Homo sapiens: one gene and its partner. The protein of the gene in region 1 interacts with the protein of each later gene in a pairwise test. Each region holds a gene or a part of one and is shown on either strand. Other genes may lie near its edges.

Region 1 (7,035 bases):
CTCCAGCTGCTTTGAGTGCTTCCTTCTCTAGGCTCCCACAGTGCCCTTTATGGACCGCTATTGGCAATTTTTAATTTTTATGAACACATGTCTCTAGAGTACTGTATATACTTGGAAGGATACCATGTCTTGTCTTTGTGCTAGAGTCCAGCGTAGTTCTGAATACGGGTTTAGTAAGTGTTTATTGGATGAATAAAAATGGGAGGATTCAAGACTGGATGATAAAAGACTGCTCTTGCAGCTCTACCTGCTTATTTGGGGAGATGGTACATACGTGCAGTTGAGCTCCAGACCTAGCATGACTAGCCTATACAGGGCTGTAAATCATTCAGCCAGCAAACACAGTGGATTTCCAATGGAGAACTTTTGCTCTTCTCCCCTGGCAGATTGAGTCATATGTCTGCCGGATGTGTTCTCGAGGGGATGAGGATGACAAGCTCCTGCTGTGTGATGGCTGTGATGACAACTACCACATCTTCTGCCTGCTGCCTCCTCTGCCTGAGATCCCCAAGGGTGTCTGGCGGTGCCCAAAGTGTGTCATGGCGGTAAGGCCTCCCCACTCCACATCTGCCTCATAGGGCTTCCTTGCCTTCCTTCATCTGGCCTTATTGAGGGCAGCCTCTTAGCTCAGCCATAGTCTTAGGTTTTGGGTCTCTGTGGTGGGATTAGGCTGGGCAGAGCTTTGGGAGAAAGGAGCAGGAGATTCAGCCTTTGCTTCTGTCCTCTAAGAGCTCCCAGACCACCTGGAGAGGTAAGCATCATAATTAGACTATATGTGGTGACATATAAACAGAGGCTAAATTGTGTGTTAGAAACTCTGAGATATAGAAGTTCAGAGGAGAGGAAAATAGCTAAGGGTAATAATCAGGGAAAATGTCAGAAATGAGACTTGAAGGATAGGAATATTAAGAAAAAAATGTTCTTTCAATTTCTGAGTTTTTGTTTTGTTTTTTTTTTTCTTTTTTAGAAAGTTTGAGGCCGGGCGCGGTGGCTCACGCCTGTAATCCTAGCACTTTGGGAGGCTGAGGTGGGCGGATCGTTTGAGCCCAGAAGTTTGAGACCAGCCTGGGCAACATGGCGAAACCCCGTCTCTACCAAAAAAGATACAAAAATTAGCCAGGCATGGTGGCGCACGCCTGTTGTCCCAGCTGCTCGGGAGGCTGAGGTGGGAGGATCGCTTGAGCCCAGGAGGCGGAGGTTGCAGTGTGCCAAAATCATGCCACTGCACTCCAGCCTGGGCAACAAAATGAGACCCTGTCTTCAAAAAAAAAAAAGACATTTTGGAAAATAGGCAAATTACTTGTGTTCCCACCACCCAGTGATAACCATTGTTAATAGTTTGATATATTTTTTTCTCATCTTTTTGCTGTTACTTATATGTAACTATCTTTAACAAGTTTGAGATCTTGTTATATATTTTCATTTGTTGCTTTATAACCATTTCTCTATATTACTAAGTTTAATTAAGGTCTGGAATTTTTTTAGATGGTGTATCATGGGTATAATATTTATTTAGTTGTTTTCCTCTTGTTATATTTAGATTGAGGCAGTGCTACAGGCTTTAACTAGAGAGGTGGTTGGCTGTTCAGGACTGGGAGGTGGAGGACTAGCAGGAACAGAGGTATAGCAGGAGAGCATGCCTACTATGGGTATAGGGGCAGTAAGGAGAGCAGCTGAAGCAGCAGTAAGGGCCAAGCAGCCAGGAAGTTGGGCAGGTACATTTCATGAACTTCCTACCTTCACCCAAATTCTCGGTACTTACCTTCTACATTTCCCTCTGGATTTCTGTAGAGCAGACATTCGCCTTATCTTAGGGACTCAACTGTGGTTGTAGAGACCGGGTGTGCACATGCATACATACACACAGACAGACATACACAGATGAGGAAAAATCAGGGCAGTGCATATTGGCCTTGGTAGTGGTGGAGATTCTAGTTGGGGAGGAGTTTGGATACCAACAGTATCAAGACTGTCGACTCTACTTGACTCTCTTCTCTAAGTGGTTATAAGTCAGTGGACCAGACGGACATTTATTTTTCAAACATAAGCATGGTGTGTGTCTGATTTTGGGGTACATATTGTTCTCATCTAAAATAATGAACATAGGTACAAAATGAGGTAGACCCACATCCTATCTTCTGAGACAGTCTCAAGAACAGGATTAGTGGAGGGTTTGATACTGTAAAAGCCAGTGTCTTCATTTTCCATCTTTCTTTTTTCTTTTTCTTTTCTTGCGACAGAATCTTGCTCTGTCACCCAGGCTGGAGTGCAGTGATGCCATCTCTGCTCACTGCAACCTCTGCCTCCCGGGTTCAAGCGATTCTCCTGCCTCAGCCTCCTGAGTAGCTGGGATTACAGGCGCCTGCCACCACACCTGGCTAGTTTTTGTAGTTCTAGTAGAGACAGGGTTTCACCATGGTGGCCAGGCTGGTCTCGAACTCCTGACCTCAGGTGATCCACCCCACCTCAGCCTCCCAAAGTGCTGGGTTTACAGGCATGAGCCACCATGCCCGGCCCTGTTTTCCATCTTTCAAGGTACTGGAATATTCAATGCCATTTTCCCAGCCTTACAGTTCTAGTCTGGGCATAAAAAACCTTCTCTAAGCACCCTGCATAGAACCACATTTTAGAGGCCAGGCGTGGTGGCTCACGCCTGTAATCCCAGCACTTGGGAGGCCAAGGCGGGCGGATCACAGGGTCAGGAGTTTGAGACCAGCCTGGCCAACATGGTGAAACCCCATCTCTACTAAAAATACAAAAATTAGCTGGGCGTGGTGGCGGGCACCTGTAATCCCAGCTACTCGGGAAGCTGAGGCAGGAGAATCGCTTGAACCTGGGAGGCGGAGGTTGCAGTGAGTTGAGATTGTGACCCTGCACTCCAGTCTGGGTGACAGAGCAAGACTCCGTCTCAAAAAAAAAAAAAAAAAGAATCACATTTTAGCTAGAGAGGAAAAATGGTGGCAGAAGAACACAGGATAGCATATTAAAGTCAGAGCCATTTAGATAAAGTCCTAAAGGAAGAAAAGAGCATGAGATGACTCCCTGGAAGTTGTGAGACTGGAATTGAGTTTTGAGGAACCAATGAAAGAAAGTGGAAAAGGACATTTCAGTAGGGAGGAACTGAGCAAAAGCATGATGGGGAATGAAAAGACTAAGCCGAAGTGGTAAGAGCAAAAGGTACAGCTGTAAAGTAAGGCCTGCCTCAGGGGCCTTGAGTGCAGACCTAGGGCTCTTCTCCCTCCCTACCCCTTATATTCCAGTTCCACTTGGGAGGATTCTTCACCTCTTTGCCTCTGTTTTGGTGACATGTTCTCCTTTGGGTTTCAGGAGTGTAAGCGGCCCCCAGAAGCCTTTGGCTTTGAGCAGGCTACCCGGGAATACACTCTGCAGAGCTTTGGCGAGATGGCCGACTCCTTTAAAGCTGACTACTTCAACATGCCCGTGCATGTAGGTGATGGAGGGCTGAGGTAGTGTTGGGCTAGGATCATAGGTATTGATGCCAGATGGTCTCAGCTCACCTGGATCAGTGGGTCCAGGGTGTGATGGGCCATAGTCATCTGCTACCTGTCTTCCCCCAGATGGTGCCCACAGAACTTGTGGAGAAGGAGTTCTGGAGGCTGGTAAATAGCATTGAGGAAGATGTGACTGTTGAGTATGGAGCTGACATCCATTCCAAAGAATTTGGCAGCGGTTTCCCTGTCAGTGACAGTAAACGGCACCTAACCCCCGAAGAGGAGGTGAGTGGATGATTCATGGTTACGTGTCAGCTGTGTGAGCTTAGGCAAATCATTTAGTATCTGAAAAACTCAGTATCTCTGTAAGATGAGGATAATTATGCCTGTCTTATGTAGCCATGAGATTTAGATGAGATGAAAGAAAACAGTCTGGTACCTGGCATGTACAAACATGAGATGGGTTCTTTCGCCTCTGTGAGCCCATTTCCTTATCTTTAAAATGGGGATAATATCTACTTTGCAAATTTGTTATAAAAATTAAATGAGAAGGTATATGAGATCCTGGCTCATCCATAAGTAGTGTTCAGGGAGTGGGGTTTGTATGCACAGGAGAAAATGAGGGCCTAGTTGTGCTTCCAAGAAAGGGTACATTTTGATCCAGAGCAGGATTTTTTTAACTTGCAGGTATTTTGGTAGGTGGATATATCGGTAAACTTCGTAGAAATTGAAGTGAATACAATTGAAATTTTGTGTGTATGCTTTTTGGTGGAGAGGTAGGGAGAAAACCTATATGTTTCTTAAGATGTTTCAAAAAAGTCTCTGACCTCAAAATTAAGGTTCCCTAGGCTAAAGAAAATGACTTAAGATCTCAGTTCCTTAGCATAACCCTCATGCCCTTTTTACAAATACCTGACCTGGCAGGAGTATGCTACCAGTGGTTGGAACCTAAATGTGATGCCGGTGTTGGAACAGTCTGTACTGTGCCACATCAATGCAGATATCTCTGGCATGAAGGTGCCCTGGCTCTACGTGGGCATGGTCTTCTCAGCCTTTTGCTGGCATATTGAGGATCACTGGAGTTACTCCATTAACTACCTCCACTGGTGAGTGGGACCCTGGGGAGCCAGGGAATCAAGTCAGTGTGGGCTCCCTGCATGACCAAGGTGTGATTTACTGTGTGTGTCCCTTTTCCACTTGTGCAGGGGTGAGCCGAAGACCTGGTATGGGGTGCCCTCACTTGCAGCAGAACATTTGGAAGAAGTGATGAAGAAGCTGACACCTGAACTATTTGATAGCCAGCCTGACCTCCTGCACCAACTTGTCACCCTCATGAATCCCAACACCCTCATGTCCCATGGTGTGCCAGTGAGTACCCAGGCAACAGGGACAAGCGGCAGGAGTGATTTAGTGATGTCCTTTGTGATGGTGGTGGTGGCGGTGGTTGTCATCTGTATTCTGCCCCTGGCCTTTCTTCATTGCTGTTCTTAATTGGGCTACGGGTTTGACTAGTCTAGTAGAGACCCAAAATAATAGTGATTAGATGCACCGTATGATGGTATGCCCTCTGGGCCATGTGTTTGACGGTAACAGCTAAGGGGTGGCTTATTATCACATCTACATTCCAGCCAGTGGAAGAGGGAAGTGGGGAAGTGCAGGGCTAGACAAATCTTTTAAAGGCACACATCATTTCCATTCACCTTCTGTTAGTAAAAACTTGGTCATATGACCACATCTAGCTGCAGGGAAAACTGGGAAATGTAATTCTTATTTTGGATGGTCAAGTACCACTTAAAACTGGAGGTCATGTTGTTATGACAGAAGACAAGAATGAATATCGAGGTACAACTAGCAGCCTCTGCCATACTTTGTATACTCTTACCCTTCTCAGAGCAGTGGATAGGTCTTTTTATTTAACAGGTCAAAAGTTGAACCCAGAGTTCTGGTCTATCCTCTGTGTACTTCTTTCTTACCCTTTAAAACATTTTGCTGGGTATACAACATGGCTTACCTGTGAGAGACTTTATATTCCTGGGAATTTCTAGCATTGATTAGCATCAGCCAGTTTTCTGGTGTGGATCTTAAAACAGCCTGATCACTAGTCCTGTAAGAACAGGAATTAGTAGATCCTCTATCTCTGCTTTAAGTATTATCCGGGGCTGCTACTCTTCCCTACACCCTTCCACGCTCTTTGGCCTTGGACACATTACCACTTACTCTAATGTATGAGATAGTCAATAAATACTGAATTAATGTCTCCTTCAGATATTCCTAGATATCTGTACAGTAGGGCTTTGGACTAGGTCAGTGGTTCTCACCTGCATTTCTTTTTGCCTTCTCCTTGTTTTGGTATACTATATGCCCCATGAGTAATATTTTTTTATTATAAAATTTAGTGATATTTAACCAAGGACTTGGGATATCTAGGGAATTGGACAGAAGGAGGTGTCCTATAACAGTTCAGGCAATCTTCCTCCACTCAGGGAGTTATCCTTTTCTCTCTCTACCTCACCCCATTTAAGGATGATGATCAAGGGCTTGAGTTCTGCTGCTTTACAAGTAGACATGGGGTCTGACTTTCCTTAGACTTCTCTCTTCCTGACCCATAGCACAGCATCAGTCCTTGTCTATAATGCCATGGAAAACTGTAAAAGAGGATTCTCTTGGCCAGGCACGGTGGCTCACGCCTGTAATCCCAGCACTTTGGGAGGCCAAGGCAGTCAGATCACTTGAGGTCAGGAGTTCAAAACCAGCTTGGCCGACACGGTGAAACCCCAGTCTCTACTAAAAATACAAAAATTAGCCAGGTATGGTGGCGCACGCCTGTAATCCCAGCTACTCAGGATCAGGAGGCAGGAGAATCGCTTGAACCCGGGAGGCAGAGGTTGCAGTGAGCCGAGATTGTACCACTGCACTCCAGCCTGGGCAACATAGTGAGACCCTGTCTCAAAAAAAAAAAAAAAAAAAAAAAAAAAAGAGCCGGGTGTGGTGGCTCATGCCTGTAATCCCAGCACTTTGGGAGGCTGAGGCGGCCGGATCACCTGAGGTCAGGAGTTCGAGACCAGCCTGGCCAACATGGTGAAACCTCGTCTCTAATAAAAATACAGAATTAGCCGGGCGTGGTGGCACGTGCCTGTAGTCCCAGCTACTGGGGAGGCTGAGGCGGGAGAATCACTTGAACCCAGGAGGCGGAGGTTGCAGTGAGCCGAGATCGTGCCATTGCATTCCAGCCTGGGCAACAGGTGGAGAGACTCCATTTCAAAAAAAAAAAAAAAAAAAAAAGGATTCTCTGAAGGATTTGGGTAGCTAAGAGGCATATATATATATATGTGTGTGTGTATATATATATATATATATATATATATGTATGTGTATATATATGTATATATACATATGCAGAAGGTCATGGAGCTGTTTAGTCCTTACCGCTTTTTAAAAAACTTTATCACAGAATCCAAAATACGTGCTTTTTGCTTACACCTCCACAGCATTTCTCCTGCTCGTGGCTCATCATCTTCTCTGGCCAGCTGCTACTTTACCACCCAGCCCTCTGTCTGCCCTGCCCTTCCTATAGGTAGTTCAC
Region 2 (7,035 bases), on another chromosome or scaffold:
TCACACCTGTAATCCTAGCGCTTTGGGAAACCATGGTGAGCGGATCATCGGAGGTCAGAAGTTCAAGACCAGGCTGGCCAACATGGTGGTACCCCATCTCTGCTAAAATACAAAAATTAGCCTGGCATGATGGCGGGTGCCTGTAATCCCAGCTACTCCGGAGGCTGAGACAGGAGAATCACTTGAACCCGGGAGACGGTGGTTGCAGTGAGCCGAGATTGCGCCATTGCACTCCAGCCTGGGCAGCTGAGCGAGACTCAGTCTCAAAAAAAAAAAAAAAAAAAATTTCTTTGCCATTCTCTCTTGGTTTTTGTTTTGTTTTGTTTTTATTTTTAAGGGAATTAATTTAAAAACTTAAATTGAGAGGCTTGTATTTGTGTATTTTTCACTGCGGCTTTAACCTCCTAGGCTCAAACGATCCTCCCACCTCAGCCTCTGGAGTAGGTGGCACTGTAGGCTTGTGCTATAACATGTGGCTAATTTAAAAATTTTTTTGTACACAGGGTCTCACTAGGTTGCCCAGACTGGTCTCAACCTCCTTAGCTCAAGCAATCTTCCTCACCTCATCCTCCCAAAAGTGCTAGGATTACGGGTGTGAACCACTATGCCTGGCCATTCTTCTAAGAATATTTTTGATACGTATGTGTAAAGCTTGCAGAACTCTTTCCCCTTTTGTCTTGGCTTACACCTATAAATTCATTTCGGAGGCATAAAACAGACAATTGGTAGATTTATAAAGAAGAGAACCTGTTACTAGAATTGGGAAAAAGAATTTAAAATTGTTTGTACAGGGCAAAAGTTAATATTCAGGTAGGTACTAATTAGAAAATCTTGATGAATATATTTTAATATAAGCAAGACTTCATGGCAATAAAGTAAAAATTACGGGAGAAAAAGAACGGAGCAAATAAATCATGCCATCAAATTTTAAACAGAAAATTTCTACATCCTCCCTTTCCGTTCACCATTCCTTAGGTGGACCCTCGCACCTTGATGGATGCATGCTTGCTCTATAGATCTCCTTATTCATCAGAGTTATAAAATGGTGCTATTTTAATTATAGTTATTTTATTAGTGTGTAAATATGAAGAGAAGAGATAAATTCCACTTATCTATTTACTCATGATGTAGGAAAGACAGGATACGTAAGAGTCTTCCCCTTGATTGATCGATTGATTGAGATGGAGTCTCACCCTGTCGTCCAGGCTGGAGTGCAATGGCACGATTTCAGCTCACTGTAACCTCCGCCTCCTGGGTTCAAGTGATTCTCCTGCCTCAGCCTCCCGAGTAGCTGGGATTACAGGCATGCACCACCACGCCTGGCTAAGTTTTTGTATCTTTAGTAGAGATGGGGTTTCACCATATTGGCCAGACTGGTCTCCGGCTCCTGGTCTCCAACTCCTGACCTCTTGATTCGCCTGCCTCGGCTTCCCAAAGTGCTGGGATTACAGGCGTGAGCCACTGCGCCCAGCCTTTTTTATTTATTTATTTTTTTGAGATGGAGTCTTGCTCTGTTGCCCAGGCTGGAGTGCAGTAGTGCGATCTCGGCTCACTGCACCCTCTGCCTCCCGGGTTCAAGGGATTCTCCTGCCTCAGCCTCCCAAGTAGCTGGGACTGTAGGCACGCATCACCACGCCTAGCTAATTTTTTTGTATTTTTACAAAATGCCTCCCCAAATTTTATATTTTTACAAAAATGCCTCCCAAAGTTTTGGGACTACAGGCGTGACCCACCGCGCCCTGCTGAGTCTTCCCTTTTATTTATCCATACTCAAAGTTACCAATTGGTTCCAAAAGTGAACAATTATAGGTAACACATTTTGAGTTCTTGCTGTCTGCTCCATGTTAAGGACTTTACATAGATTAGATTATTTATAGCTCACAACACTTAGAGAGTATTTTATAGATGAAATTGAGGCCGGGCGCGGTGGCTCACGCCTGTAATCCCAGCACTTTGGGAGGCCGAGGAGGGTGGATCACCTGAGATCAGGAGTTCGAGACCAGCCTGATCAACATGGAGAAATGCCGTCTCTACTAAAAATACAAAATTAGCCAGGCTTAGTGGCACATGCCTGTAATCCCAGCTACTAGGGAAGGTGAGGCAGGAGAATCGCTTGAACCTGGGAGGCGGGGGTTGCAGTGAGCCGAGATCGCGCCATTGCACTCCAGACTGGGCAACAAGAGTGAAACTCCATCTCAAGAAAAAAAAAAAAGAAAGAAATTGAACTCTAGAGAGGTTTCAGGACTTTGCTCAAAGTCTCAGAGTGAGCAACTTGCAGAGCTCATGTTTTATCTCCCAGATGGTCTAGCTCTATCTAGAAGTTCTTAGGCCTTATGCTACCTATCTTTCTACATTCTATGTCCACGTATGTTAAAATGTTTGTCTCCATTTAAATCATTCACTGGAGAGAACCAGGTATAGAGTAATGTAGCATGTTGTAGAAACTTGCATATTTGTAAATCTGTTAGTAGACCAACATGGAGAAGAATTGTCCAGTCAGCTGAATATCTAATTTGACTACCTGGATAAGGTGATTATTTTATCACCAGGCATTTTCTAATCATGTAAAACTTAACATCTACATGGTTTTACCTAATGTCTGAGTTTTGCTTTATGAAAATTTTTAGTACAATTTGATATGAATTTGAGAATGTTTGAGATGAATTTTCATAAATGTCAATTTCCGTTTTTCTACTATGCATTCCATTGGACCAGTGGGGTATGGATACCATTTGGTAATATTTACTAGAGTGTGATCTAGATGGGTATGTATTCAGGTAGAATGTATTACTCTTATGCCTTTAATTTGGGGGTGGGGGTTCTGGTTTTTTATGTATCAGTGATTGTGACTTTGCTTATTTTACATACCATATCTATTTGTGTGCCACTTCTCATTACCTAGTTCCTTTATGTATTTTATAGAAAGGTGGGGGGAAAATCAAGAAAGTTTTCTGAATAATTACCTTGGCCTATATTTTTGCTTTAAAATAGCAATGCTAGCGCAGGAAGTTTGCTAAGTGAAAATTTACTCAGCTCTTGCCATGACGGACAGAAGGATTAAATTTCAAGAAAAAGCCTTTGCTCAGACTAAAGCAGAATTTCAAAACTTTTGCACCTAGGATCTGGGAGTATCGCCCAGAGTGAAAGATATTTTTCTCAAGATTTACCATAAGAAATTTAGGGTGGAGGGAGTATGGGAATTTTATTTTATTTTTATTTATTTTTGAGACGAAGTTTCGCTCTTGTCGCCCAGGCTGTAGTGCAGTGGTGCGATCTTGGCTCACTGTAATCTTGCCTTCTGGGTCCAAGCAATTCTCCTTCTTCAGCCTCCTGAGTAGCTGGGATTACAGGCATCTGCCACTACACCCGGCTAATTTTTTGTATTTTTAGTAGAAACAGGGTTTCACCATGTTGGCCAGGCTGGTCTTGAACTCCTGACCTCAGGTGATCCACTGCCTTCGCCTCCCAAAGTGCTGGGATTACAGGTGTGAGCCACCACACCTGGCTGGGAATTTTATTTATTGATGTATTTTTGAGACAGGGCCTTGCCCTGTTGCCCAGGTTGGAGTACAGTAACACATTCACAACTCCATGCTACTTCAGATTCCTGGGCTTAAGTGGTCCTCCCGCCTTTGCCTCCCAAGTAGCTGGGACTGCAGGTGCACTCCACCATGCCTGGCTAATTTTTTTTTTTTTTTCTTTTTGTGAGACAAAGTCTTACTGTCGCCCAGGCTGAAGTGAAGTGGTGGGATCTCAGCTGACTGCAACCTCCGCCTCCTGAGTTAAAGCAATTCTCGTGTCTCAGCCTCCCTAGTAGGTGGGATTACTGGCATGCAACACCACGCCCAGCTAAATTTTTTTATATTTTTAGTAGAGATGGGGTTTTACTATGTTGGCCAGGCTTGCCTTGAACTCCTGACCTCAGGTGATCCACCTGCCTTGGCCTCCCAAAGTGCTGGGATTTACAGGTGTGAGCTACCGCACCTGGCTGGGAATTTTATGTATTGATTTATTTTTGAGACAGGGCCTTGCTCTGTTGCCCAGGTTGGAGTTCAGTAGCACATTCACAACTCACTGCTACTTCAAATTCCTGGGCTTAAGCGGTCCTCCCGCCTTTGCCTCCCGAGTAGCTAGGACTACAGGTGCACTCCACTATGCCTGGCTAATTTTTTTTTTTTTTTTTTCTTTGAGACACAGTCTCGCTGTCACCTAGGCTGGAGTGAAGTAGTGCGATCTCAGCTCACTGCAACCTCTGCCTCCTGGGTTAAAGCAATTCTCGTGTCTCAGCCTCCTGAATAGGTGGGATTACTGGTGTGCAACACCACGCCCAGCTAATTTTTTTTGTATTTTTAGTAGAGATGGGGTTTCACCGTGTTGGCCAGGCTGGTTTCAAACTCCTGGCCTCAAGGTATCCGCCCACCTTGGCCTCCCAAAGTTAATTTTGTTTTGATTTATTTTGCTCAGGTTGTTCTCTAATTCCTGGGCTCAAGCAGTCCTTCTGCCATGGCCTCCCAGAGAGTTGAGGTTATAGTTGTGAGCCACTGCACCTGGCCAGAATTTTATTTTCTACTCCATTAGGCATTTAACTAAACACACAAAAAAATTTTTAAGTTGATAATATTCCTCCAAATTAACATCCAGAGCCCAATTGAACTTTGCCAATATGTGTATGTCTTAAAGAATCTCTGTTCTTTAGTAGTGCTTGAGGACTCTAACTTGAACTTTTTTGAAGCTTGTGGTTAACTGAGATTTATTCCTCTCTTTTGAGAATCAATGTCAAGGGATAGAGAAATGTTATACAAATAAATATGGTAAATGTAAGGTGCATGATACAGCATTTTAAATAGTCTTTGTTGTTACTTTACATATACAGTTCTTTATATTTTAATCTTGAATTTGTCTTAATCTATGTCTTCTCTCATACTTTTGATTTGCCTTCAGGTGAGAAGCCATTTAAATGTGATCAGTGCAGTTATGTGGCCTCTAATCAACATGAAGTAACCCGCCATGCAAGACAGGTTCACAATGGGCCTAAACCTCTTAATTGCCCACACTGTGATTACAAAACAGCAGATAGAAGCAACTTCAAAAAACATGTAGAGCTACATGTGAACCCACGGCAGTTCAATTGCCCTGTATGTGACTATGCAGCTTCCAAGAAGTGTAATCTACAGTATCACTTCAAATCTAAGCATCCTACTTGTCCTAATAAAACAATGGATGTCTCAAAAGTGAAACTAAAGAAAACCAAAAAACGAGAGGCTGACTTGCCTGATAATATTACCAATGAAAAAACAGAAATAGAACAAACAAAAATAAAAGGGGATGTGGCTGGAAAGAAAAATGAAAAGTCCGTCAAAGCAGAGAAAAGAGATGTCTCAAAAGAGAAAAAGCCTTCTAATAATGTGTCAGTGATCCAGGTGACTACCAGAACTCGAAAATCAGTAACAGAGGTGAAAGAGATGGATGTGCATACAGGAAGCAATTCAGAAAAATTCAGTAAAACTAAGAAAAGCAAAAGGAAGCTGGAAGTTGACAGCCATTCTTTACATGGTCCTGTGAATGATGAGGAATCTTCAACAAAAAAGAAAAAGAAGGTAGAAAGCAAATCCAAAAATAATAGTCAGGAAGTGCCAAAGGGTGACAGCAAAGTGGAGGAGAATAAAAAGCAAAATACTTGCATGAAAAAAAGTACAAAGAAGAAAACTCTGAAAAATAAATCAAGTAAGAAAAGCAGTAAGCCTCCTCAGAAGGAACCTGTTGAGAAGGGATCTGCTCAGATGGACCCTCCTCAGATGGGGCCTGCTCCCACAGAGGCGGTTCAGAAGGGGCCCGTTCAGGTGGAGCCGCCACCTCCCATGGAGCATGCTCAGATGGAGGGTGCCCAGATACGGCCTGCTCCTGACGAGCCTGTTCAGATGGAGGTGGTTCAGGAGGGGCCTGCTCAGAAGGAGCTGCTGCCTCCCGTGGAGCCTGCTCAGATGGTGGGTGCCCAAATTGTACTTGCTCACATGGAGCTGCCTCCTCCCATGGAGACTGCTCAGACGGAGGTTGCCCAAATGGGGCCTGCTCCCATGGAACCTGCTCAGATGGAGGTTGCCCAGGTAGAATCTGCTCCCATGCAGGTGGTCCAGAAGGAGCCTGTTCAGATGGAGCTGTCTCCTCCCATGGAGGTGGTCCAGAAGGAGCCTGTTCAGATAGAGCTGTCTCCTCCCATGGAGGTGGTCCAGAAGGAACCTGTTAAGATAGAGCTGTCTCCTCCCATAGAGGTGGTCCAGAAGGAGCCTGTTCAGATGGAGTTGTCTCCTCCCATGGGGGTGGTTCAGAAGGAGCCTGCTCAGAGGGAGCCACCTCCTCCCAGAGAGCCTCCCCTTCACATGGAGCCAATTTCCAAAAAGCCTCCTCTCCGAAAAGATAAAAAGGAAAAGTCTAACATGCAGAGTGAAAGGGCACGGAAGGAGCAAGTCCTTATTGAAGTTGGCTTAGTGCCTGTTAAAGATAGCTGGCTTCTAAAGGAAAGTGTAAGCACAGAGGATCTCTCACCACCATCACCACCACTGCCAAAGGAAAATTTAAGAGAAGAGGCATCAGGAGACCAAAAATTACTCAACACAGGTGAAGGAAATAAAGAAGCCCCTCTTCAGAAAGTAGGAGCAGAAGAGGCAGATGAGAGCCTACCTGGTCTTGCTGCTAATATCAACGAATCTACCCATATTTCATCCTCTGGACAAAACTTGAATACGCCAGAGGGTGAAACTTTAAATGGTAAACATCAGACTGACAGTATAGTTTGTGAAATGAAAATGGACACTGATCAGAACACAAGAGAGAATCTCACTGGTATAAATTCAACAGTTGAAGAACCAGTTTCACCAATGCTTCCCCCTTCAGCAGTAGAAGAACGTGAAGCAGTGTCCAAAACTGCACTGGCATCACCTCCTGCTACAATGGCAGCAAATGAGTCTCAGGAAATTGATGAAGATGAAGGCATCCACAGCCATGAAGGAAGTGACCTAAGTGACAACATGTCAGAGG

The links. The genes of interacting proteins can lie anywhere in the genome.
Region 2: the proteins of KDM5C (region 1) and REST interact in binary tests that used the Homo sapiens proteins (3 or more experiments, as listed by UniProt).

What each region holds. Positions count from the first base shown.
Region 1 is NC_000023.11:53,208,199-53,215,233, reverse strand, and holds part of KDM5C (lysine-specific demethylase 5C), read left to right. Parts: intron 1-386; coding exon 387-545; intron 546-3,327; coding exon 3,328-3,447; intron 3,448-3,578; coding exon 3,579-3,737; intron 3,738-4,376; coding exon 4,377-4,558; intron 4,559-4,657; coding exon 4,658-4,820; intron 4,821-7,035. UniProt on the Homo sapiens protein: Histone demethylase that specifically demethylates 'Lys-4' of histone H3, thereby playing a central role in histone code. Does not demethylate histone H3 'Lys-9', H3 'Lys-27', H3 'Lys-36', H3 'Lys-79' or H4 'Lys-20'.
Region 2 is NC_000004.12:56,924,900-56,931,934, forward strand, and holds part of REST (RE1-silencing transcription factor), read left to right. Parts: intron 1-4,941; coding exon 4,942-7,035. UniProt on the Homo sapiens protein: Transcriptional repressor which binds neuron-restrictive silencer element (NRSE) and represses neuronal gene transcription in non-neuronal cells.